Linked DNA regions of Homo sapiens. The protein of the gene in region 2 purifies or fractionates together with the protein of the main gene of each other region. This does not show direct contact. Each region holds a gene or a part of one and is shown on either strand. Other genes may lie near its edges.

Region 1 (3,805 bases), on a different chromosome or scaffold from region 2:
AGGAATCTCAAAATAAAGTTATGAAAAGAATCAAGTGTTTCTTATTGCAGTTGGTCAAAGAAAAAGAAATGAAAAAAATGAAAAGAAATAGAGCAGAAGGAGAAACTGAAATAAAAGACAAGTCTCAAACTTAAGAACTGCAAAAGAAAAGTCAATTAACAGGGAGACTACATTTTATTTAACAGGATTTACTTTCTAGCTATTAGACTTCTGCTTGTAAGAAATTTATTAACCTCTTCTAGCTATTTTTTAAAAACCAAGAAAATACAGTATCTGGTTTTATATCTGCCTGAAGGGAAATGATACTCTACATTTATTATAAATGAAAAGTTTGCCCTAAGTACATTACCTTAATTTATAAATAAAATGTAGAATGTCATCTGTCTTCCATTTCCATTAATTTTTCCCAAATTATCACAAGTTATTTTTGTCTCAAGAAGCATTATTAGCACGCACACACACACACACACACAAGGGTACCCTGGGAGTCTCTAGATACTATTTCACAGTAAAAGAAGCCAGACTTTCATCTTTGAAGAAACATTTGATTTCAGATATGGGTTATAAACTATACATGTGATTCTGGAACACCTGAATGCTGTGTTGCACCAGAAATCAAGGATGCTTTCAAAGACCAGGAGAGTCACGTCAAAACAACATAGGAACCATTCTGAAGGGGCTCCCATTGAATAAATTTAGGGCAATATGAGGATTTCAAAAAAAAGAAAGGGCAGGCGCTCATGCTCATTCCTATAAGGGAGGCAGTAGGATCGTTTGAGACAAGCCTGAAAAAACAGTGAGATTGACTCTACAAAAAATTAAAAAATAGAAATGAGACAGGTGTGGCAGCATGCTGAGGTGGTAAGATCACTGGAGCACACAACCTCAAGGTTCCAGTGACCTATGATCATACCATTGAACTCCAGCTCTGAGAGACAGAGTGAGACCTTGTCTCTTTAAAAAAAAAAAAAAAAAAGGAAAAGAAATGAAGGGAGAGGAGGAGAGAAGAAGAAAACAAAAGAAAATACAGTAAATGATACAATACTTATACTTCAGGAGATCACAATGATAATCACAAAGAGAGACACCACCTGTACATGTAAGCTAATTTTCACCACTGGAAATGATTCCTAGATCAACTCTTTACTCTAAAAATATTTGCTAAAAGAATTAATAATTTATGCATAGGCCAGGGGAGGTGGCTCACGCCTGTAATCCCAACACTTTGGGAGGCCAAGGCAGGAGGATTGCTTGAGCTCAGGAGTTCAAGACCAGCCTGAGTAACATGGAGACCCCATCTCTACAAAGAAATTAAAAAATTAGCTGGGCATGGTGGCACATACTTGTGGTCCCAGCTACTCAGGAGGCTGAGGCAGGAGGATCATTTGAGCCCAGGAGTTTGAGGCTGCAGTGAGCTATGAAGCCATACCGCACTCCAGCCCAAACAACACGGCAAGATCATGTCTAAAATTAATTAATTAAAAGAATGTATGCAGGCGAGCATTTCAGGAAAGCTACATAACCCCTAGTTAATAATGAAAAGCTCTTCTTTAAGAATGACAGCTAGTAAATGTAGAATAGAAATAGAAAATTCACCATTTTGTAACCCTGAATAAAATAATTAATTTATGGGCAAGAATTATCAACAGATGCTAAAGCCAGAAAAAAAAAGAGGTAACAGGAACTCAGTACTTGCATATTATTATAGTATTAAGCCACAGATTGCTTGCTGGTCAGAAGGAAAAAAAATCATAACATTACAATGGAGGAATCTGACTATCACTATGTTAACAAGTGAAACAGTCAGACATTACTTGTCTCTTGATATAATAAAAAGTACATGGCATCATCTCTGAAATATTCTGGCAAGAAAAATTTAACCTAAATGTAACCAAACCTTTAGATCAACTTTCCAGTTTAGAGGAAACACAATGAATTAAGAAGCTAGTTAAATGGCATCATGAGGAAACAATTAGATAGATTTAGAAGGTGGAGTATTCTACAAGATAAATGCACTAGTTGTCTAAGGAAGTTGGTATCATAACCAATAAAAGAAAAAAGAAGGGGACTATTATTAAATAAAAGACTAAAAAGGTATAATATTCCCATTTAATGAGTGGTCTCCAATTGAATACCTGTTTGAACAAGGCATAAAAGACACTTTTGGGACAAATGAGGAAATCTGAACACAGTAATCCCCCCCTTATCCATAGTTTCCCTTTCAAAGTTTTCATCTGCCCACAGTTAATCGCTATCCAAAAACAGGTTGGTGGAGTAGAATTAGATAACTTTAAGAAAGAGACTACATTCACACAACTTTTATTACAGTATATTATTATAATTGGTCTATTTTATTATTAATTATTGTTAATCTCTTACTGTGCCTAATTTATAAATTAAACTCTATCATAGGTATGTATGTATAGGAAAAAACAATACACATAGAGTTTGGTACTATTGTGGGTTGTTTCAAAAATCCACTGGGGGTCTTGGAATGTATCCCCATGGATAAGAGCAGAATACTGTGTAGACTGTATGTTTTATAGGTATGGTAACAACATTTTCATTATGTAGAAAAATATTCCTGTGTGTGAGAGATGCACACTGAAGTATTTAGTATTTGGTGATGACTTTTTAAAAGTCAAGATAACCACTACAAAAATAAAGGTCCTCCTCTATAAAAATAAAGCAAAGAAATGCCTTTTTTAAATATAATGGAATAAACATTTAAAAGATTTTTCCTACACAAAAGAGAATAAATTAACTTAACAGTCTAAGTCTAACAATTTCCACAATGACCACATATTAAAAAGACAAAAAAAAAAAGAATTTTTTTCCTAATGTGGTGCTAAGTTTGGATTCCATACTGTGGAAACACCAACAAATTTTTTTTAAAAGAGGGACTGAAACAATAATAACTGAGGGGAAAAAAAAATACACTGGCAGGCAGGATGTAGCTTACCTTTTTTGATATCATTCCAGCACCTGCAGCACGTTTTATATCTTGGACTATGCTGCATTCCATCACAATAAACTCCTCTAGCTGTTTGGGATGACATAAACTATTGAAAGGGTGACTCCAGAAAGTGCTCCCATCAATATCTGCCACTAAAAATAAGGATAGAACACAAAAACATAAGAAAAATTATATATTTCAATTATCAAATGTATTAACTAAGAATAAACTGGTAGATACCAACTGGGAAGTGGCAGGTCAACAGAACTAGTGTCAACTCACTCCTTAGGGTCATCAATTACTCCTATAAACCAATCCCAAACTTCTCAAAGCACAAGAAAAATATATCAGATGTCAAACATATCTTAAATAGTTACTATAACCAGAATGCCACAGGGCTAAGTGCCTCTTAAGTAAGATCAGAGCCAATCAGTGGTACAGCTGTTTCACGTGCTGGCACTTTATTTTAGAAACGTATCTGTCACCTTAGCTGCTTAGTTTATGGGAAATAAAGCCTAGTTCTACCAGATAGGTAAAGAATGTCCATCCCAATATTGCTAACAGATCTTTAACTTATGAATCCTAACTGATAAAGATAATGAATGACTTTGAAAAATATCAAAATAAACTCACTTTTTGTATAAAGGAAACTTATATTACAGAAAATACATGAAAAAGATCAAGCAGAAGATACATCCAAATACTAAGATACCTACCAAAATGTGGTCTTCCTTAAAAAATAATTTATTCTATAGACAATGTTAAAAAATGATCTACAGTAATAACAAAATTGGTTAAAATTCATATTCAAACTAAATGTTCCAATGGGCCACAAAAAGCCAAATGTTC
Region 2 (3,443 bases):
GCTTGAGCCCGGGAGGCAGAGGTTGCAGTGAGCCATGATTGCACCACTGCACTCTAACTTGGGCAACAAAGCAAGACCCCATCTCAAAAAAAAAAAAAAAGTCTCACAGTGGGCCAGGCGTGGTGGTTCACACCTGTAATCCCAACACTTTGGGAGGCTTTGGGAGGCTGAGGTGGGAGGATTGCTTGAGCCAAGGAATTCGAGAAAAGCCTGGGCAACATGGTGAAACCCTGTCTCTACCAAAAACACACAAAGAAATTAGCTGGGCATGGTGGCATGCACTTGTAGTTCAGCTAAGGTGGGAGGATCACTTGAGCCCAGGAGGTGGAGGCTGCAATGAGCTGAGATAGTGCCTCTGCACTCCAGCCTGCGTGACAAAGTGAGACCCTCTCTCAAAAAAAAAAAAAAGAACCTCCCATAAAGATTTATTGACAATAAACATTTCTATTATATACCACACACTGTGTCTACATATTAGGAATATAAGAACAAATTTTCTCTTATATTTACCCTGAAGAAAACTATTCCTAGTCTCAATATTAAGAATGAAAGGAGGGAGAATAAAAGAACGATAAGTATATTTTTGCAGGATAGATCTCACCATTGATTAGGGATAACATAATAGATATATTTTACAAAAATATTTATACAGTAATATATTTATATCAAATGTGACTTATGTTTAATTTGTGAAAAATCCTCACTTTCTGGAATGGTGTTAATTATACTATAAAAGAATGCCAATTTTTTTTTCTTTCACTACAACTTGAAGCCTATGGGATTTAAGTTAAAGTTGGACAAAAATGACAAGAAATAGTACAATACAAAAATACTGACTCTTGCTTCCATAGTGGTATGAGATATTAAGTCATATACACATCTAAATGTAGTAACAGAGGAATAATATGAGAGCCCTTCTAGTGTCTTGAGTACCTGGTTCTTCTCCTCGTATTCTTTGATTTTGAACAATCTCCAGAAGCTGCTGGGCTGCTTGGTTTACACTCATATACCGTGGAGGTTCATAGATCTTCCTTCCCCTATAGGCAGAAAACTAGATGCCACTGTTCTTAGCCATGAAACTACATAATATGTTATTAATGCAATTAGCTCTCCCAGGTATACTCAAGTACCACAGTCTACATTCTGTTTGATGTTTTTTTACATGTACTCACTTTAAGCATACACAAAAGCATGATGATTGTTCATTTCTTAAGCTTTTTCATTGTTCTAATTTAACTTTCCTCTGATCTCACTGAAATGATGGCAGGAACACATAAAGATAGATGTCTAAATGAAAGTTATCTTTATTCAAAGTGATACCTTTGGTAAAAACAATTCAAAGTAAGTGGCAATTTGGTCTATACTCTAGCTTAATCAGGTTATTTAGTGTCCTTTTTATGACCATTTTTAAACCACATATTCTTTTCACTGTTTCCTCTAAGAAAAGTAAACTAAAGCATCTTGGATGCTTAAAAATCTCAGGTGATGGCATACGTTTATTTCTGTATGCCTCAAAAGCCTATCAGGCTTGCCGAACTATCATATTAACAAAAATATAGCCATTGCAGGCCAGGCGTGGTGGCTCATGCCTGTAATCCCAGCACTTTGGGAGGCAGAGGCGGGTGGATCACAAAGTCAGGAGTTTGAGACCAGCCTGACCAACATGGTGAAACTCCGTCTCTACTAAAAATAAAAAAAATTAGCGTGGCTTGGTGGCGCACGCCTGTAATCCCAGCTACTCAGAAGACTGAGACAGGAGAATCAATTGAACCCGGGAGACGGAGGTTGCAGCGAGCTGAGATGACACCACTGCACTCCAGCCTGGGCGACAGAGCAAGACTCTGTCGAAAATATAAATATATATATATATATATATATATATATATATATATATAGCTATTGTGGCTTACAACACAGTTCAAATAGATTATTTTACTGACTCTCAAAAAAATTCTGTCAGTGCTATCCAATAGAAATATAAATGAAGCCATATATAGAATCAAGTTTTCTAGTAGCCATATTAACAAAAAAGTTTGTAAAAAGGCAATTTTTTTTTTTAAGACAGTCTCACTCTGTTGCCCAGGCTGCAGTACAGTGGCGTGATATTGGTTCACTGCAACCTCTGCCTCCTGGGTTCAAGCAATTCTCTGCCTCAGCCTCCCGAGTAGCTGGGATTACAGGTGCCTGCCACCATGCCTGGCTAATTTTTTTTGTATTTTTAGTACAGACGGGGTTTCACCATCTTGGCCAGGCTGGTCTCGAACTGCTGACCTCGTGATCCACCTGCCTCGGCCTCCCAAAGTACTGGGATTACAGGCATGAGCCACCACGCCCAGCCAAAAAAGGCAAAAATTTTAATATTTTAATTAATCCAAAATGTTGTAATTTAACACCTACTCATATAAAAATTATTAAAGAGATTGTTTTTATATTAAGTCTTTGAAATCTGATATGTTCTTACAGCACACCTTAATTTGGATATTAAATTTTCATTGGAAATAGTTGATCTGTATTTAACTTTCATAAAATTTATGGTTTTAACAGTTGATTTATATACTAAAGCTGTTCCAAACATACTTAAAAGTTTTCCAATAACAGAGTATCATTTTTTAATTAATTAAAATTAAATGAAAAATTCAGTTCCTCAGTCACATTAGCCACATTTCAAATGCTCCTTAGTCACAAGTGGGTAGGGGGTACTGTATTAGACACTGCCTCTCTAAGTAAAAAAGGATTAGTACTATCATTATACATCTGAAGAAAATAAGGCTCAGAGATGGAAGTAACTTGCCCAAGAGCACTCAACTAGAGGCAGACTCAGGACTCAAACCCATGCCTTTTTTTTTTTTTTCTCACTCTGTTACCCAGGCTGGAGTGCAGTGGCGTGATCTCAGCTCACTGCAACCTCTGCCTCCCAGATTCAAGCGATTCTCGTGCCTCAACCTCCCAAGTAGCTGAGATTAAAGGCACGTGCCACCACACCCAGCTAATTTTTCCATTTTTAGTAGAGACGTGGTTTCACCATGTTGGCCAGGCTGGTTTTGAACTCCTGGCCTCAAACAATCCACCTGCCTCAGCCTCCCAAAGTGCTGGGACTACAGGCATGAACAACCGCACCCGGCCTCACACCCATGTTTTCAGAATCCCAACGCATTAATTCATTCCACAAACACTGAGTGTCTGTTAGATGCCAACCACTGTTCTCAGTGTTGAATCCACAAAATATATTGCTATTTCTACTCTATTATACTGCTTATCATTTCGTAAGAATAAAAATGCTTAATGTTCACACTGTTAATGAGAGCTCATTTTCAACCATCTTTAGAACTCAGGTCATTTAAGTAGAATGTATTGAATTGTTCAAGGAAATAAAACACATGTATGCATTCTCAGAATAATAACTTACTTGATTAGATTTTCCAAAGACTGCTCCTTTACTTTGA

What was found. Proteins that work in one complex are often made in the same cells at the same time.
Region 1: the proteins of DPH5 (region 2) and NMD3 fractionate together in Homo sapiens (co-fractionation; one large-scale study listed by BioGRID). This does not show direct contact.

What each region holds. Positions count from the first base shown.
Region 1 is NC_000003.12:161,241,811-161,245,615, reverse strand, and holds part of NMD3 (60S ribosomal export protein NMD3), read right to left. Parts: intron 3,109-3,805; coding exon 2,963-3,108; intron 1-2,962. UniProt on the Homo sapiens protein: Acts as an adapter for the XPO1/CRM1-mediated export of the 60S ribosomal subunit.
Region 2 is NC_000001.11:100,991,704-100,995,146, forward strand, and holds part of DPH5 (diphthine methyl ester synthase), read right to left. Parts: coding exon 3,407-3,443; intron 1,038-3,406; coding exon 934-1,037; intron 1-933. UniProt on the Homo sapiens protein: S-adenosyl-L-methionine-dependent methyltransferase that catalyzes four methylations of the modified target histidine residue in translation elongation factor 2 (EF-2), to form an intermediate called diphthine methyl ester.